4 linked regions of the Homo sapiens genome follow. The protein of the gene in region 1 purifies or fractionates together with the protein of each later gene. This does not show direct contact. Each region holds a gene or a part of one and is shown in the gene's direction. Other genes may lie near its edges.

Region 1 (5,368 bases):
GGGGGCGGGAGCGGGAGCGGGAGCCGAGCCCGCTCGGAGCTCCTCGCCGCCGCTGCCGCTCCCATCTTAAAACCGTTTCTCGCCGGCGCGCCCGCCCCAGCCCGAAGGTGCCGCCCCGGAGGGACTCGGGGAGGGGGACGGCGCGGCCGTTTCCAGCGGCGCAAGTGGCTTCTGGACGCGAGGGAGCGTTTGATTTGCAACTGGGGCCGAGCGGATTGGTGCAGCTGGCGGCGGCGGGGCGGGAGGAGCTGCCGCGGCGGGGGGTGGCCACTTTCAAATGGAGAGGGCGGCGGCGGCGGGGACGCCGCTGCGGAGGGAGCGGGGCTTGGTTGCGCCACGAGAAGGTGTCATCACTGCACCGGGGCTAATTCCGGCGGAGGTGCCGGGAGTTACTTTCCCCTCCTCCCGCGCTGTTGTTTCTGTCGCCTCGGGAGGAGGAGGAGGAGGAGGATTGGGAGAGAGGGAGGGGTCGGCGCCGCGCGGAACCGCGGCCCTGCGCATTCCCCGGCGGGCGGCGGGAGCCGCGCGGAGCGTTCGCCGCTGCGGGGCGGCGGCCGAGCTCCCCCACAACCCCGGGGTGCCCCCCTTGCTGGGATCCTTAGCCTTCTCACGTCCCCTCTCACTCCGCCACCCTCCCACTAGAGCTCCTTATTCTCGAGTCCTCAACCCCGGCTTGGCGCGTCCCGGGTCTCCCCTCGCCCCAGGATTCCTCCCGCGCCAGGCTCCGCTGGCCCCAGGTTTCCCACCCCAAGCGGGTGGGGGCGGCCGCAGTCCCGGCGCCGGTGAATGCTGAGAGCAAACAAAAAAGCGGGCGATTTAAACATGCCTTCGAAACCCGTTAGGAATGCGTCGTCATCCGGAGACCGTTTAAAAGGAGCTTTAGCTTGCCTTCTAGTAACGAGAGGGCTGGCGCCCTGCCTTACTTCGGCAGGGGCGAGGGGCTGTCGCCCTCTATTTGCCCCGGCCAAGAGGGAATTTAAATTTTCTTTTGTAAAATGACAGCTGCAGTGAATGACCTGAGACAGCTACGTTTTTAGGAAAGTAGGAGAGGATCTGAGGTTTCCATTAATGGGAATGCTTAGGGGGTTCTTTCCCAAAGGTTTTTTATTAGGTGAACTATTTTTCCTTTTTATAATACCCGCCATGAAGGCTAGCTCTCTTGCTACTTGTAGCTCAAGGCTAATACCTTTCAAAGCTAATGAACTAGTTTTAAGATAGAGGGAAATTATTTCCCTGAAAGCTGATTTAGGTAGTGACTCCCCAGTGGTTACAGATTTTATAGTAAGTTGCATTTTGATCATATCACAACTGATCAAGATTTAATCACAGGTGGAGAAAGGTGGAGAAAGGAAGCATTCAATATGTCCATACTTGCATTGAGTCAACACTTTTGATGTAATAATTTGTTGTAGGTGGGCAACATACGTGGGGGGAGTTAAATGGGATGTTTTGTGAGTAACACTCTTAGCAAGTACATGCAACCCAGAATTTTTATTGTCCTTTTATCCCAAAGATCTTAGTCTCATTTACTTACGGTCACTTTTTTTTTTTTTTTTTTTTGTTCCTTGAGACAGAGTCTTTCGCTCTGTCACCCAGGCTGGAGTGCAGTGGCATGATCTTAGCTCACTGCAACCTCCGCCTCCTGGGTTCAAGCGATTCTCCTGCCTCAGCCCCCTGAGTAGCTGGGACTACAGGCGCGTGCCACCACGGCTGGCTAATTTTTTTTTGTATTTTTAGTAGAGACGGGGTTTCACCATATTAGCCAGGCTGGTCTCGAACTCCTGACCTCGTGATCCGCCCGCCCCGGCCTCTCAAAGTGCTGGGATTACAGGCGTGAGCCACCACGCCCAGCCTGCTTACGGTCACTTGTAAATCAGATGACTTTCTGCTTGGTATTTTGCTGTCTTCTTCAAAGTTTGGATACTTCTATAAGTGTCTTTTACTTGGCATTGTCATTTTAATGTGTAGAATAAATATAATTTTAAGCTGTTTAAGTGTTAGGTTTCCTGCTATTTCCTTTGGTCCCTATTTAGCAGAGATAATGGGAGTGTCTGAAAGTAAGGTAGAACTTGAACTTGATTCCACCTTTAAGAGTACAGACTGCTTACTAGTAAAAGTTGGGTTGGCTGCACATATATTTTAGCTTTAACAAAGGTAGATATGTGTTCATTTAAAAGAAAAAAAAAAAACCCACCTTCTTAGTTCTCCCCGCTTCACTTGACTGGTTTTCTGCCTGTAAACCAGTGCTGTGCTTATATTAGTTATCCAGGTTGAAAGAGTAGCTATACAGGGACAGCAATGAAAAGTATGTGTGTCTGGGTGAAACTAGAGGGAGAAAACCTATTGGAGTTTGAGGAAATGTGTTTTGTTGCTTAGCCTAGGGGGTTGGAGAAGAAAGATGACCTAAAAAACAAACTTGGAGGACTAGGTGAGAGTAAAAGCAGATTTCCATTGCGTCTTACGTATAGTAGGCACGTGACCGATATTAATTTTTGACTTTAGCTGTTAAAAAGTTATTACACAAGTAGTGTTACATGTACGTTTTTGAAAATTAGAAAATACAAGGAAACAAATATAAAAACAAATTGCTACCATCCATAGATGACTACTGTATTACTTTTCAGATAATTTTCTATGCATGTGCATGTGTGTTTTAATAAAAATGAGATACATGAATATACCATCTGTAAGGATTTTTTCTTTTTTTTTTTTTTTTGAGATGAAGTTTTGCTCATGTTGCCCAGGCTGGAGTGCAATGGTGGGATCTCACTGCAACCTATGCCTCCCAGGTTCAAGCGATTCTCCTGCCTCAGCCTCCTGAGTAGCTGGGATTACAGGCTCCCGCCACCACGCCCAGCTAATTTTTTGTATTTTTAGTAGAGACGGGTTTTCACCATGTTTGTCAGGCTGGTCTTGAACTCCTGACCTCAGGTGATCCACCTGCCTCGGCCTCCCAAAGTGCTGGGATTACAGGCGTGAGCCACCGCACCCAGCTCTGAGGACCTTTTTTTTTTCTGTCAGCTAGCTTGGTTAGTTTTAATATAATCTATTACTGTAACATGTCCAGATTTCCCCATTTAGCCCCAGACTGTAATAGAGAAGCTTTGTCTAAACCACTGCCTAATAAAGGACCATTTATTGCATTTGGTTGTTTCCCTTAAGTCGATTTTAATCTTAAGTAACTTTTTTTTTTTTTTTTTGAGACGGAGGCTTGCTCTGTCACCCAGGCTGGAGTGCAGGGGTGCGATCTCGGCTCCCTGTAAGCTCCGCCTCCCTGTAAGCTCCGCCTCCCTGTAAGCTCCGCCTCCCTGTAAGCTCCGCCTCGCGGGTTCACGCCATTCTCCTGCCTCAGCCTCCAGAGTAGCTGGGACTACAGGCACCCGCCACCATGCCCAGCTAATTTTTTTGTATTTTTATTAAGACGGGGTTTCACCGTGTTAGCCAGGATGGTCTCGATCTCCTGACCTCGTGATCCGCCCGCCTCAGCCTCCCAAAGTTCTGGGGTTACAGGCGTGAGCCACCGTGCCCGGCAATCTTAAGTAACTTTTTGACAGAATATCTGACACTGAGGAGGCAAGCCTTTGGAAATAAAGTTGCCTGGATTTTAAAAAAGCAGGAAATCCAAATGGTATTTATTGTAATTTGGAAATCTTAAATTTGGAGATCATCTGCTTGCTTGATGTTACTTTCCACAGACTTGTTGGAAAAAGATTTATCAGATGTTTGTGTTTCAGTACTGAGGTGGTTGGAACAGTAAACATCAAGATATCAAATACAGATTACATCCTGTCTCTTTAGGGTTTGGTCAGAGAAGAGGAGGCATAGGAATCTGTCACAGTTCTGCTTGCTGCTTTACTTTCTTGTTTGTGAAGCTCTTCCCTGTCATTTAGTATTATGGGGCACCTGTTACAGCATTACAGTTAATGGTCTGTCAGAATTTGCATTATAAAACTGGTTTTCCTGTGAGGTTTATAAAACAGTTATAGAGGGAAATATGACATATTAGCGAACACACCTTGCTTTTTATTTGGGTTGGCATTAAGAGGTTTAGCTTGATTGTTAAAACGGTGAAAGTTACGTCACGTTTAAACTTATTTCCTCCCTTGTACAAGCCTTTAGAGAATTGGCACCATATTCAACAATACTTTTTTTTTTTTTTTAAACATGAAGGGTGGGTTTGCTTGGAGTTTCTGGTTTCTTAGAAGGTATCAGCAATCTTAAATTAGGAAAGTATTTTAATTCCTGAGACAGGTAAGTTGTTTCCTTAAAAGTCTTAAATCTGTTTTCTCCGTTTTCAAGTCCTTGCAGCACTTTATATGACCATGTATTTACAATCTGGACAATTCTTTTTATGTTTGTGGAATGTAATATCTCAGAAGTTGAGATTTAGTTGAGTCTATTGAGTCTATTGTCCTTTGCCTAGTGTATTTCTCATATGAAAACTTTGGTTTGTGATCATGAGGGTGTATGCATTATTTTTATTTTTTCTTTTTTTGCAGTTCATAGCCCTGATGAAGCAAGTTACTCTGCTCTCCTAATAAATGCAAGAAAATGACCTTGGAGGGCCTTTTTAATTACACATAGAAGTGACAATTTGTAAGTTTAAGGTTGGGTGTCATGGAATAGAATGGAAGAAATTGATGCTAAAAACTTTGGCTATGATGGGGCCTTTCCTAGCCCAGGACTTGAATGATTATTAAGGATCCTTTCCTCACCTCAAAGCACAAACATAAAGATTACCAGACTTGGACTGGAAAGCCTTTATCACTAGGAAAGGGGCCATGTATTTTTACGTTTAATCCCTTAGACCCATAGTGTACGATGTGCACACAGTAAATGTTCAGTGACCAAATTTTGGTTACTCTAAAACGAATTCAGTATTTACTTTTTGCCTTTAGTTCTTCAGGTAGAGGTAGGACATAATGTGATAGAGAGCAGTTGAAGAAAGTTAATTTTTAAAACCTTAGATTTTTTTGGGCTTACTTGTTGAGGGAAGTAAACTACATTTTCTCTCTCTTTTTTTTTTTTTGAGACAAGTTCTTGCTCTGTCACCCAGGGTGGAGTGCAGTGGTGGGATCTCGGCTCACTGCAGTGGGTTCAAGTGAGTCAGCCTCCGGAGTAGCTGGGATCACAGGCGCATGCCGCCGTGTCTGTCTAATTTTTGTATTTTTAGTAGAGACGGGGTTTTACCATGTTGGCCAGGCTGGTCTCAAACTCCTGACCTCAAGTGACCCACCTACCTCGGCCTCCCAAAGTGCTAGATTACAGGTGTGAACCACCATGACTGGCCAGTTTTCTATTACTTTGAAAGCGCTCACAATTGACATCTGTCTCTTTGTATTTTTTGTTAGAGAGATGAGGTTTCACT
Region 2 (4,526 bases), on another chromosome or scaffold:
GATGATCACGAAGAGGAGGAGGAAGAGGATGAAGAGCCATCCCACAACGAGGACCATGATGCCGATGACGAGGATGACAGCCACATGGAGTCTGCCGAAGTGGAGAAGGAAGAGCTGCCCAGAGAAAGCTTCAAAGAAGTACTGGAAAACCAGGAGACTTTTTTAGACCTTAATGTGCAGCCTGGTCACTCGAACCCAGAGGTCTTAATGGACTGTGGCGTCGACCTGACAGCTTCTTGTAACAGTGAGCCCAAGGAGCTTGCTGGGGACCCTGAAGCTGTACCCGAATCTGACGAGGAGCCACCCCCAGGAGAACAGGCACAGAAGCAGGACCAAAAGAACAGCAAGGAAGTCGATACAGAGTTCAAAGAGGGAAACCCAGCAACCATGGAAATCGACTCTGAGACTGTCCAGGCCGTTCAGTCTTTGACCCAGGAGAGCAGCGAACAGGACGACACCTTTCAGGATTGTGCCGAGACTCAAGAGGCCTGTAGAAGCCTACAGAACTACACCCGTGCAGACCAAAGTCCACAGATTGCCACCACGCTCGACGATTGCCAACAGTCGGACCACAGTAGCCCAGTTTCATCCGTCCACTCCCATCCTGGCCAGTCCGTACGTTCTGTCAACAGCCCAAGTGTCCCTGCTCTGGAAAACAGCTACGCCCAAATCAGCCCAGATCAAAGTGCCATCTCAGTGCCATCTCTGCAGAACATGGAAACCAGTCCCATGATGGATGTCCCATCAGTTTCAGATCATTCACAGCAAGTCGTAGACAGTGGATTTAGTGACCTGGGCAGTATCGAGAGCACAACTGAGAACTACGAAAACCCAAGCAGCTACGATTCTACTATGGGAGGCAGCATCTGTGGAAACGGCTCTTCACAGAACAGCTGCTCCTATAGCAACCTCACCTCCAGCAGTCTGACACAGAGCAGCTGTGCTGTCACCCAGCAGATGTCCAACATCAGCGGGAGCTGCAGCATGCTGCAGCAAACCAGCATCAGCTCCCCTCCGACCTGCAGCGTCAAGTCTCCTCAAGGCTGTGTGGTGGAGAGGCCTCCGAGCAGCAGCCAGCAGCTGGCTCAGTGCAGCATGGCTGCTAACTTCACCCCACCCATGCAGCTGGCTGAAATCCCCGAGACGAGCAACGCCAACATTGGCTTATACGAGCGAATGGGTCAGAGTGATTTTGGGGCTGGGCATTACCCGCAGCCGTCAGCCACCTTCAGCCTTGCCAAACTGCAGCAGTTAACTAATACACTTATTGATCATTCATTGCCTTACAGCCATTCCGCTGCTGTGACTTCCTATGCAAACAGTGCCTCTTTGTCCACACCATTAAGTAACACAGGGCTTGTTCAACTTTCTCAGTCTCCACACTCCGTCCCTGGGGGACCCCAAGCACAAGCTACCATGACCCCACCCCCCAACCTGACTCCTCCTCCAATGAATCTGCCGCCGCCTCTTTTGCAACGGAACATGGCTGCATCAAATATTGGCATCTCTCACAGCCAAAGACTGCAAACCCAGATTGCCAGCAAGGGCCACATCTCCATGAGAACCAAGTCAGCGTCTCTGTCACCAGCCGCTGCCACCCATCAGTCACAAATCTATGGGCGCTCCCAGACTGTAGCCATGCAGGGTCCTGCACGGACTTTAACGATGCAAAGAGGCATGAACATGAGTGTGAACCTGATGCCAGCGCCAGCCTACAATGTCAACTCTGTGAACATGAACATGAACACTCTCAACGCCATGAATGGGTACAGCATGTCCCAGCCAATGATGAACAGTGGCTACCACAGCAATCATGGCTATATGAATCAAACGCCCCAATACCCTATGCAGATGCAGATGGGCATGATGGGCACCCAGCCATATGCCCAGCAGCCAATGCAGACCCCACCCCACGGTAACATGATGTACACGGCCCCCGGACATCACGGCTACATGAACACAGGCATGTCCAAACAGTCTCTCAATGGCTCCTACATGAGAAGGTAGACAACGTGGGCAGTCCACAAAACCTACGGGGCATCACTATTGGATTGATCTGCACAAATACCTTTGAAGAGTACGATTTCAAAACCAGCAATTGGTGTGAATGCAAAAACATTTGTTGGCACCATTTATTTAAAAAAAAAAAAAGCTGTATGCAGCAGAAAGCCTTATACAAGTTGTTTTTCTTTTTTTCCTTTTTCTTTTTTTTGGTACCTTCATTTCTGTTACTTTTATATAAAATTCTCTGCAAAGGAAGGCCTCTCTTTGGACTACAATTTGGAGGCAGCCACTTGTTGTGCCTGCTTCTGTTAAACAATGTGGATATCAAGCCCCCCCAAATTATCTGTTTTAATATTGAACCTAGAGCTTTTTTTTTCCCTTCCCTGTCCACTCCATGTAAATGCCTTTAGCATTTCAGTTATTGTATATTTTGTTTAAGGTGACACTTCAGCATGCCGCTAATGTCTTTGTTAGTGACAGTGCATTTTGTAGTACTGTACAAGTGTTGTGCTAACAGTAAGCCATTTCTTAAGTTTTTTGCCTTGATTAGGGTGCCCTAATTTGAGGGTTTTAAAAAAAACTATATTTTTGTTAATTATAAAACTGTAAAGAGCTATAAAAGCTATTCCCATTTGGTTAGTCAAAAGGGTTTTATTGCTAAATGTTTGGTGTAAAGTTGAGACCCTTTTCCATTTTGGTGACAGATTTCTTTGGGGAAAAAAGGCAGCTTTCTGTTTTATAAATGCAGACTTCTGTTTATTGAATGAAGCATATCTCAGTGTTTATCTGTCAGGTTTTGAAACATTTCATATATGTCCAAATACTTGGCAGGATTTAAAAAAAAATAGTGAATTTGGTGTAAAGTTGCTATTTTATGGAAATGCCTCTAACTTTACATTTTCATTCCATCTGTAGATTTTTCTATCTTTATAAAATATTGGAGTTATTTTTTAAGGAAAAATAGAAAAGTAGCTTGTGAATAGCTCAAACTAAGCTTACAAATCGCATGTAAAAAAGCAAAAAAGTTATTTGTGTCTGTTTATATTGCTTCCTTTTTTGTAGCCTTTGTACCTGTACAGGGTGACAGTAAGGGCCAAGCAGGAGAGGCGTAATCCTTGTATAAAATAGGATCCAGCGACACTCTTGTATTTATCTGTTCTCTTTTTAGTCAGTCACTTCAAAAAAACAAAAAACAAACAAAAAAAAGCTGTACATTTTAACATAAAATAAATTATGATGAGCCATTTTTAGCCTCTTGTGTCCTGTCATATTATGATTGATAGAGAATGACCAATGGAACTGTATCATGTGTCACGCCTCAGAACACATACACATTTTGGGAAAATAAATTATTTAGTGTAAATTGGAGTTATGGGATTTTCTGATTTGTTTTGACTTTGGGGGAGGGGTTGGCAATAAATAAGAGTAATATCTAATAAAACCATCACATATACCAAATACCTATTTAATAAATTAATTTATAATGGATTTTAATGCTTTTCATGAAAGTTTATTTTATGCGAGTGCATACCTTCTGTATGCCAATCATTGTCTTTAAAATAAAGTGAAATTGTTTTTTTCTTTTGGACTTTGATCTTCATTTGCAAAGAGATCCCGCACAAATATCCAGCTGCCTCACTCGCACAGTCTGTAGAAACATCCCTCCAAGCCTCGCACCAGGGTAGCAAACTTCCTTTTTATAAAGATTCATACCAAAAAAAGCACCCAATTTGGGATTGTATGTTTGAAAAATCATTTTCTTTTTAAAAAGTGTGAACGTTTTGCTCTGTTGTGAATGATTAATTGTATGTTTTCTTTAGAGTCTAAAGTTTAGACCCCCTGCCAAAAGTGAATATTCACAAGTATAGCGTTCAGAGAAAGTTCTGAGTGTTGCTTGAATTTGGTTATTTGAGCAACAAGTCTAGAAATGAATGCTTGACCTAGCACCCGTGTGAAACTAGCCCGTTAAGCTCTCCAGGTGTCTGAACACGTGTGCTCGCAACTCCTCTGTTAAGCAGGTCACTACCCTGTGGAGGAAAAAAGTTGCTTTTGCACTGTTGATTCAACACACACACACAAAAATTAGATGTTTTACAAAGCATAGACATAAGCCTTAAAGTGGACCCAAAATCGTGCAAGGGCAGGATAGAGCGTACACACCAGAATAAAAGGCCTTGTGCAGACAGAGGGTGCCCAGTGGAGTTCTGCCTTGTACTCTCACCCTTATCGTTATTTTCTTTCACAGTTACAAAGTGTATTGGGTTTAGTGTCACAATTTTATCTTTTAGTCCCTTCCTTCCTCAACTGCAAAGTCAATGGGGGTAATATATGTAACAGCTGAGGGAGGGCTTTCAAGAAGACACGTCTGAAGGGCCGTCAGCACAAAGGGAAAAGATCCATTTAAGCTGCTGTGCTAATAGGAAAAGAAACCTATCAGCCATCCTCAGAGTAGGAAGTGGTGGTCTATGCCTGCACAAATCGAACACTGCGTCCATTCAGGAGTGGCCAAGGACTGGGCAGCC
Region 3 (4,526 bases), on another chromosome or scaffold:
TAATGACCTGTTCATTAGCTTACACCTGTTTTGCAACATTTTAGGCATTGTATGAGAGGAAATTTCCAGTTCCAAAGCCAATTGATTACAATCGTCATGCAGTGGTCATGGAACTCATAAATGGTTATCCACTGTAAGTATTCATTATTCTTAAAGCCATGAATCCTGATAAATGAATTTAAGTTTCAGGGTTTTTAATAAAATTTTTTTTAGTTAATGAAATATTGCCTCTGGGAGGTTAAAATTTATTTAAAGGAATAGACTCAAAGACAAATTAAAAACCCAGTTTCATTCTGACAATATGAACTTTGTAATCTCTGTGATTCATTCATTCATTCAATATTAAGAGACTGTTAGGTGCCAGGAACTTTTAATCTCAGCAGTGAACAAAACAAAGTCCCTGCCCTCATGGAATTTACATTCTGATGGAAGGAGATGTGCAATAAATAACTAAAGGAAATGTATATCAATTGTTAGTAAGTACTATGGATAAAAAAAAGCAGAGTAAGGGAGATAGGAAGTACTAACGGGACAGGAGACTACTGTTTTATGTAGGGTGGTCAAGAAAAGTCTCACTAATAAGGTGAAACCTCATCAAATTTTGATTCAGATTAGCAGCTATTGGAGTGGGAGTATTTTGAGCAGAGAAGAGATGTGATCTCATCAATCAGTGATCTCAGTGTTTTCAGAGGGTCACTCTGCTTGCTGAATTAATAGACTCTGGGGAGACAAAGAATTAGGAAGACAAGTTAAGAGGCTATTACAATAATCTAGGCAAGAAATGGTTGTAATTCTGATTACAGTGATAGTTGTGAAGGTGATGAAAAGTGGTCAGATTCTGAATGTGTTCTGCAGGTTGAACCAACATGATTTGAGATTGGATATGGATGTGAAGGAAGGGATGAGTCAATGGTGACACCAAGGTTTTTCCCCTGAGTAGCAAATTAACTGGAAGGAGAAATCTACCATGTATAGAAACAGGAAAGCTACAGGAACAGCATTTTGGAGTTGGAGGGTGGGACAGAATCAGAGATTCCATTTTGGACATGCTAAGTTTGAGATGCCTGGGAGTTAGAGAAGTCTACATTAAAATCAGTGTATATGTGGTATTTAAACCATTAACCTAGATGAGATCACCAAGAATGAGTCTAAATAAGAGAAAATAAAAGGTCATAGGATTGACCTTTGAGGAACTCCAGAATTTAGAGGTCAAGGAAAAAGATGAAGTACAAATAGAAAAGACTAAGAAGGTATGATCTGTGAGGAAGGAAGAACACCTGGAGAGAATGGTGTCCCAAGAGTTAAGTGAAGAAAATGTTCAAAGAGGTCAACTGACAGACCACATATGATGAGGACTAAGAATTGACCTTTGGATTTAGCAACATTGAAGTCATTGTAGTCTCAACAAGGGTGATCTTGGAAGCACTTTGGCCTCCCAAAGTGCTAGGATTACAGGGGTGAGCCATTGCGCCTGGCCCGTACATGCTATTATTGATTCTGGATGTGGGTGTGTTTGTTTAGAATATAATCATTTTTTCATAATTTTTCAATTTTGTGATACTATTATTTAGGTCACTCACTGGTTTGAAGTGGCTAGTGTTAACGTTATAAAAAGCCTGTTTGAAATGGTATGAGAGAGTAGGAGGAAACAAATTGGAAAAGCACATGTAGACAAGTTTGGCTGTAAAGATCAAAGAAAGGTAGTAGTAGAAAAGAGATACAGAATTGAAGCAGTGTGGCTATTTTTTTAATAGATGGGAGATATTATATCTGTGTGCTGATGGGAATGAGAAGAAAGCTGCTGGGGATACACAGCATGGAAATAATATATATGTTCACATGCATACATACTTTCGTTAAAACCGTAAATGAACACAAGTAACCTATTTTCATGCTTAAAATACTTTCAGATGTCAGATACACCATGTTGAAGATCCTGCATCAGTATATGATGAAGCTATGGAACTAATTGTCAAACTTGCAAATCATGGGCTGATTCATGGAGATTTTAATGAATTTAATCTCATTTTGGATGAAAGTGACCATATCACCATGATTGATTTTCCACAGATGGTTTCAACTTCTCATCCCAATGCTGAGTGGTACGTACTTGCTATTTTTTTATTTTTATTTTATTTTATTTTTTTGGAGACGGAGTTTTGCTTGTTGCCCAAGCTGGAGTGCAATGGCGCGATCTCGGCTCACTGCAACTTCCACCTCCCGGGTTCAAGCAATGCTCCTGCCTCAGCCTCCCGAGGAGCTGGGATAACAGACATGTGCCACCACACCTGGCTAATTTTTTGTATTTTTTTTTTTAGTAGAGATGGGGTTTCTCCATGTTGGTCAGGCTGGTCTTGAACTCCTGACCTCAGGTGATCCACCCGCCTCGGCCTCCCAAAGTGCTGGGATTACAGGGGTGAGCCATTGCGCCCGGCCCTTACATGCTATTATTGATTCTGGATGTGGGTGTGTTTGTTTAGAATATAATCATTTTTTCATAATTTTTCAATTTTGTGATACTATTATTTAGGTCAGTCACTGGTTTGAAGTGGCTAGTGTTAACGTTATAAAAATTTGGTTTTTTATTAAAGTATAACTACTAGAGTTTTCCCCATAAGAATTTGAATTTCTCTGTTGTAAATTGACAGACGTTCAAAAGTCAAATTTTCTTAGCCATGGAACCCTTTGTTCAAACAGACTTTTAGATGGAAGACCAATTGTTAAAACAGGTAAAAGTAGGGAGTGTAGTGGGGAACTCTAGAACCACTTTTGTCTTTCCCTTTTTCTTGCTGTTCCATGATTGCCTCCAAGAGAGATTCACCAAGTATAACTCAGTAATCTCGATGATCTGAATAAAAGTTGTGGTTTTGGACTGGACTCAGTTGTCAAACCAGTGATAATTACCTCTTGTCACTTTTAGCTTTATTTATTAGAAAAAAAATCACATAAAACTTTATCTCTGACACAGTGCAGAATCATGATATACTGCGATAATCATATTCTTCACATTACTTATTTAAACCAAGCCAGCCAAGTCATGAAACAGGACCTTATCCTTTATTTGCTTGAGGTTTATGATTCAATTGAGTGTAACTAAGGATTTTTTTTTCTTTCTGTTCCAAGCTTTATGAGAAACTTTTTTCCTAAACTAACAACTAGTATCACTTATATAATAGAGTATATTAATTCTTCCAGAGATTGAGCTTGAAGTAGTTTTGTTAAGTGAAGCGTCTCTTCATCCTGGTTTCCAGTAGAAAATGTCTATACTTATGCTACAGAAAGAAATGTCATTTGAAAATAAATTTTTAAAACGTTTTCAACAAAATAATACTAAAAGATTAATGCCTGGCACTGGGGTGGTCAGTACTCTTTGGATGATGACTAATCATGATTTTTATTAATAAGGAGTAACATAGTCACACAGTAAAGGAACATCTAGGAGCCTCCAGAGTGTGACAGATTATGACATTCTAGGTTTAGGCTGCATCGTTCTATGGAGAGACATTGTGATTTAATTTCAATTTTTATGAACCAGTTCTGGGGCCAAGGAGCTGTGCTAATTGCTAGAGATTGAGATATAAATAACCCCTATATATGCTTTAGAAAATGTTACTGTCTCGTAGGGAGATGTAAACATATATAAAATAGTCTTTTTAAAATGTATTAGTATTTTTCCCAGAGTACCCTGTGAGCAAAGAGGAGAGGCATTATCTTCCTATTTCCAAACTTCATCTTTCTCAAAGAGAGTCAATTGCACATTATCCTGTCCTTAATTCTCCCTTGTCTGGAAATCTTCTAGAGAATTGAATCCATTTTTGCTGCTTTGTGGTGGCCCAAAAAGGCAGCCTGATATTCAGATATTGTTCTACTTTTGGTCCAGATTAACATGTCCTCAGATTATTTTTATAGGCTGTAGCATTATTTATCCCTTTGGGTGTTATTGCAAATCGGCTAATGGATAACAAAGATACATAAACATAATTCAGTAGTCTCCAAACTTAACTGTTTAATATTAATATCTTTTTATCGTCAGATCTTTCAGTTGGCTAGGGGTTCTAGTGAGTGTTGCTGATAAGAAGCATAGCCAGACTCAGGACGAACAGAATAAGTGGAAACCTATCCCCAAACCATAGGCCCATTATCTTATTTCCTGGGGTTCACATTCATCTTTCCCTAGTGTATCTAACTATATACCAGTAACTATGACAAAACCTTGACTTTCCTAACCGTAGGAACTGCATGGCATTGACAGCTTATATCCTTGAGATTTCCTTGGATTTTAGTTTTTCAAACACACTGGTTAACTCATTTGTATCTTTTTTCTTTTGTGTAACATCTTTTATCTCCTTGTGTAAGGAGGAGCAATACCATTAACCAATAAGTATATTGTCATTGGCTAATAAGGAAAAAGAGGAGCAATAAAGACTATATCATAAATGATTCTTGCTTTTGCAGGTATTTTGACAGAGATGTTAAATGCATTAAAGATTTCTTTATGAAACGTTTCAGCTACGAAAGTGAGCTTT
Region 4 (4,526 bases), on another chromosome or scaffold:
ACTTAGTCTTAGATGTGCAAGAATCGGACTGTTCGGTCCTATCCAGGAAATACTGGAATGACTGTGAGCCACCTGATTCCAGACGTCCATCTGAAATAGTAAGTAAAGAGGGCACCTTCACTCTGCTCTTTTCATTCTTATTTTCCATCTACTCTGTTCACTCAGCCAATGCCTGGGCTAACACAGTAGAAGAGAAAGGGCAGCTTTTGCCTTGAGATTCATGAAGATGATGTTAACCTTGAGCAATACTCTTGAGAGTCTTTCCTGGGAACCCAGTTCAAGACAACTCAGCAGGGTGTGTGGTCCCATCAAAGAGCATAACCAGCTGTGGGTCCTTGGGTAAATCATCTAATAACATCCCTCCACTTTGGTGTTTTTTGACTGTAAAATAAGAAGTGGGTTTAGGAATTCATGGACTCTAAGGGCCTTCCACTCTTGACAGTCTACAGGTATCAGAATCTATGAACTTGTAATTGTGTCCTATGAACAATGGTCCTATTTTCAGGAATGGCCAAAGTAATTACTTGCAGTGAGGAATTGGGTCTTGCTCAGCACCTAGGATATACACTGAGGAATAAGATCTGGCTTTGCATGTGGGAGGTGGGTATTGACATGCCAGGCTCTCTGACACAGGTGGAGAACATGAAGATGAATAAGCAGAGATTCAAGATTTCATTTCCAGAAAATGAGAGGTTCACACTCCTGGAACTTTCACCACTTTTTCCCTTGAAAATGTTTGGGGTATGGCCATGATGCTTTAAATAGTTTCTCGCTGGTTCTCCTGAGGATTTTGAGTGCCAACAGGATGCAGCACACAGAAACTGACTAAGAAAATGCAGGGTTTGAGACAAGCTTTGATGAAAGAAATGCATTTTTAAATGAACAGTAGGAGGATGTTGCATCACCTTTTTGCTCTTTCATATCTGACCTGAGGAAGGCAGGATGCAATGACTCAGCAAGTCCTCAAGAGCCTCTTTCTTACAGGTGATCGGACAATGTAAGGTAATAGCTACAAGACATTCCCATGAATCTCAGGACCTCAGAGTGATTGACTTTAACTGCACCACAAGTTCTGGTATGGTAATCTGTTAAATTGCTAATTAATTCTTGATTAATACAAATTCAATCATACAGTGGTATTTGTCTCATCTATGTACATATGTATTCATATATATTCAGATGTATTCATGTATATCTATGATGTACATGAAAGAAAAGCCTTCATAGACTCCATTATTATTCATTCTCCAGAGAATAGAATTGAGACAAATTTCCCTGGTACTGGTACACCTTCTTTTAAAGAAATTCAACACATAAAAATAGAGATTTAGGAGAGGTAGGTTAGCCTCATTATAGATATAGGCTTTGGAGTCAGGCTTGCTTTAGCTTGAGTCATCATCTGCCAGTTGTATAGTCTTGGGAGGAAGTAAAGTCTTGGGACTATGAAGTAAAGGTTATGACACTTTCTATTTAAGACAAAATAATTGATGCTCAAAGAAGTTAAATGACTTGGCCTCAAGAACAAAGCCAAGATATTGTGAAGATGTGACACAATCCCAGGAGTATTAACTCTAAATTCCACAGCTTTTTTATTTATTTATTTTTATTTTTGAGACAGAGTGTCGCTCTTGCTACCCAGGCTGGAGTGCAATAGTGTGATCTCGGGTCACTGCAACCTCCACCTCCCGGGTTCAAGCAATTCTCCTGTCTCAGCCTCCCAAGTAGCTAGGATTACAGGCATATGCCACCACATCCAACAAATTTTGTATTTTTAGTAGAGATGGAGTTTCTCCATGTTGGTCAGGCTGGCCTCAAACTCTTGACCTCAGGTGATCTGCCCACCTTGACCTCCCAAAGTGCTGGGATTACAGGTGTGAGCCACCACGCCCAGCCTCCATACCCTTTTAATTTACATTTTCAAATAGAATTATCACAGGATTCCTTTTTAAAATAGCAAATCCAAATATGATATTATATACAAAAATGCAAGATACTGCCACAGGAGTTTGCATTGAAGAAAGGATGATCTGTATCTTCTCCTCTCTCTGGGCAAAACTCTATGTTAATGCTCTGTCTTCCCCCTTGGCAACAACAGGAAGAACTTATTAAAATATTAGTGGCCTGGTGCGGTGGCTCACATCTATAATCCCAGCACTTTGGGAGGTTGAGGCCAGAGGGTTGCTTGAGCCCAGGAGTTTGAGACTAGCCTGGGCAATGTGACTCAACCCCATCTCTATTATTTAATATATATGTTAATATATATATCATATTAATACCTAAATATATGATTATATAATATAAAAACATATGATATATTATATAATATATAAATATATAATAGATATTATATAATAGATAATATATATTTATATATTAACGAATGTCATAGTTGTCATATTTATATATATATGTTAGCACTTTATCAGTGGTACTGGTGAAGGCATCATGAGTAGGGGTCACAACATAGACATGGGGATCAGAAAGACTCGAAGGAAGAATCAGCAGTTTAGTTCGGTTGCCAAATGGCTGATTGATCTTGAAGCAGTTACTCAGCTCTTCCCACCCTCAATTTGCCCATCCTTAAAATGAAAGTTATTGTCATTCTTGCCACCAAGCCACCATTAACATTTCCAGCCCTTTACTGTGACACTGCTATCTTCTTTCTCCAGTCTCTTCAGCACTGGCCAATACCAAAGATAGTCCGGTCCTCATAGATTTCTTTGAGGATACTGAGCGCTACAGAAAACAAGCCAACAAAGCCCTTGAGAAGTACAAAGAGGAGAATGATGACTTTGCCTCTTTCAGAGTGGACCGAATCGAGAGAGTTGCAAGAGTGGTGAGTCTCCACTAAGGTTCGGTTGGAGTCTGAAGGCCCAGGCTCCAACCTGGCAGCAGGAACTGAATGGCATACCCTCTCCACCTGCCTCAATTGACTAGCTGCCTTTTAATTTGTCACTTTTGAGGCCATAAAAGACAGGCAGCAGGTATTTAAAAAATACAAAAAAATTGCTTTCCTCAAACACTTTTTTTTTTTTTTGAAGGATGGGTAGGGGAGTAGACATCTGACAGAGTAGGGAGAAAATCTAAAGAGGAAACAGGGAAAGACAAGAACATATGAGGGTTGTGTCATTGCAAATCATCCAATACTAACATTCTTGTACTATGATGGAAAACTGAAGTTCAGAGAAATTACCTCACCACACCCAGTAATGTGCCTATAGTTAGATGGTTCCCTGCTCTCTCTACAAGGACCCAAGTACTTTCACCCAGAGCTGTCTTGTAGAGCAACTGGTTGACATTTGCTATGCATTCAGAAAATGCAGCGTTAAATAGATTGTGTTGCATACAAGTAAGGAAATGAGTACCATGCAGTTGCTCAAAGAATGTTTGGACCCATGCGCACTGGAGTTTGAAAACATATTGGTATAGGAAAATGCAGGTTATAGAACAGTACTTAGACTATGGACCCATTTATATGAAACACTTAGATCTCCCTGTGTATGTGTAACACATCTAGGAAAACACTCGAAGAGGAAACACATCAAATAAATGAGAATGAAAACTCTGGGAAGAAGTTGGAGTGCAGGAGAGGTGATTTTTCACACTCTACTTTATCATATATTTATTATTTGAACCTTTTCAGTGAACTGGTATTCACCTTATCACTTAGGTGATACATTTTTAAAAGGCAGAAACCATTTTAAAAAATGACACATACTGGTGATTTTGAATTCTCATACTGCCTTAAAAAATATTGAATGGTAGTTATCTACTGCTTTTTTTTCCTTTTTCTTTGTCTGTTCTTGAAACTATTTTGATCCCATCTGTTCTAGAGAGGAGGGGAAGGAACTGGTTACTTCGTGGACTTCTCTGTGCGGAACTGCCCCAGACACCATTTCCCCAGACACCCCAATGTGAGTATAAGAAATGTCTGTGATCGTTGACTAGAGTCACAGAGAAAAAAGAAAGAGAAGAAGGAGAAGGAGAAGGAGAAGGAGAGGAAGGAGAAGAAGGAGAAGAGGAATGAGAAGGAGAAAATGAGGAGGAGGAGAAGGAGGAAGAAATGTCTGTGAAATACAAAGTATCATCTGGGAAGCACTTAGTACCTGCCAGGCACTCTTCTAAGTGATTTACACATCAGATAACTTATTGTTTTGTTTTGTTTTTGAGATGGAGTTTCGCTCTTGTTGCCCAGGTTGGAGTGCAATGGCACAGTGTCGGCTCACTGCAACCTCCGCCTCCCGGGTTCAGGCGATTCTCCTGCCTCAGCCTCCGGAGTAACTGGGATTACAGGCATGCACCACCACGCCCAGCTAATTTTTGTATTTTTAGTAGAGATGGGGTTTCACCATGTTGATCAGGTTGGTCTCAAACTCCTTATCTCAGGTGTCCACCCACTTCGGCTGGGATTACAAATCAAAGTGCTGGGGTTACAGGCGCAAGCCACCATGCCCAGCCTATGATAACTTATTAACCCTCACACTACCATATGAGATAGATACCATTTTTAATCCCAAATTAGCAGA

Evidence for each region.
Region 2: the proteins of JADE1 (region 1) and KAT6B purify together in Homo sapiens (affinity purification with mass spectrometry, with the first as the bait; one large-scale study listed by BioGRID). This does not show direct contact.
Region 3: the proteins of JADE1 (region 1) and RIOK2 purify together in Homo sapiens (affinity purification with mass spectrometry; one large-scale study listed by BioGRID and IntAct). This does not show direct contact.
Region 4: the proteins of JADE1 (region 1) and HRG purify together in Homo sapiens (affinity purification with mass spectrometry, with the first as the bait; one large-scale study listed by BioGRID). This does not show direct contact.

The regions. Positions count from the first base shown.
Region 1 is NC_000004.12:128,811,868-128,817,235, forward strand, and holds part of JADE1 (protein Jade-1), read left to right. Parts: exon of another isoform or gene 1-107; intron 108-4,580; exon of another isoform or gene 4,581-4,596; intron 4,597-5,368.
Region 2 is NC_000010.11:75,029,040-75,033,565, forward strand, and holds the end of KAT6B (histone acetyltransferase KAT6B), read left to right. Parts: coding exon 1-2,007; 3' UTR 2,008-3,585; downstream 3,586-4,526. UniProt on the Homo sapiens protein: Histone acetyltransferase which may be involved in both positive and negative regulation of transcription. Required for RUNX2-dependent transcriptional activation. May be involved in cerebral cortex development.
Region 3 is NC_000005.10:97,168,782-97,173,307, reverse strand, and holds part of RIOK2 (serine/threonine-protein kinase RIO2), read left to right. Parts: intron 1-44; coding exon 45-133; intron 134-1,910; coding exon 1,911-2,102; intron 2,103-4,455; coding exon 4,456-4,526. UniProt on the Homo sapiens protein: Serine/threonine-protein kinase involved in the final steps of cytoplasmic maturation of the 40S ribosomal subunit. Involved in export of the 40S pre-ribosome particles (pre-40S) from the nucleus to the cytoplasm.
Region 4 is NC_000003.12:186,668,954-186,673,479, forward strand, and holds part of HRG (histidine-rich glycoprotein precursor), read left to right. Parts: coding exon 1-98; intron 99-984; coding exon 985-1,075; intron 1,076-2,669; coding exon 2,670-2,836; intron 2,837-3,833; coding exon 3,834-3,914; intron 3,915-4,526. UniProt on the Homo sapiens protein: Plasma glycoprotein that binds a number of ligands such as heme, heparin, heparan sulfate, thrombospondin, plasminogen, and divalent metal ions. Binds heparin and heparin/glycosaminoglycans in a zinc-dependent manner.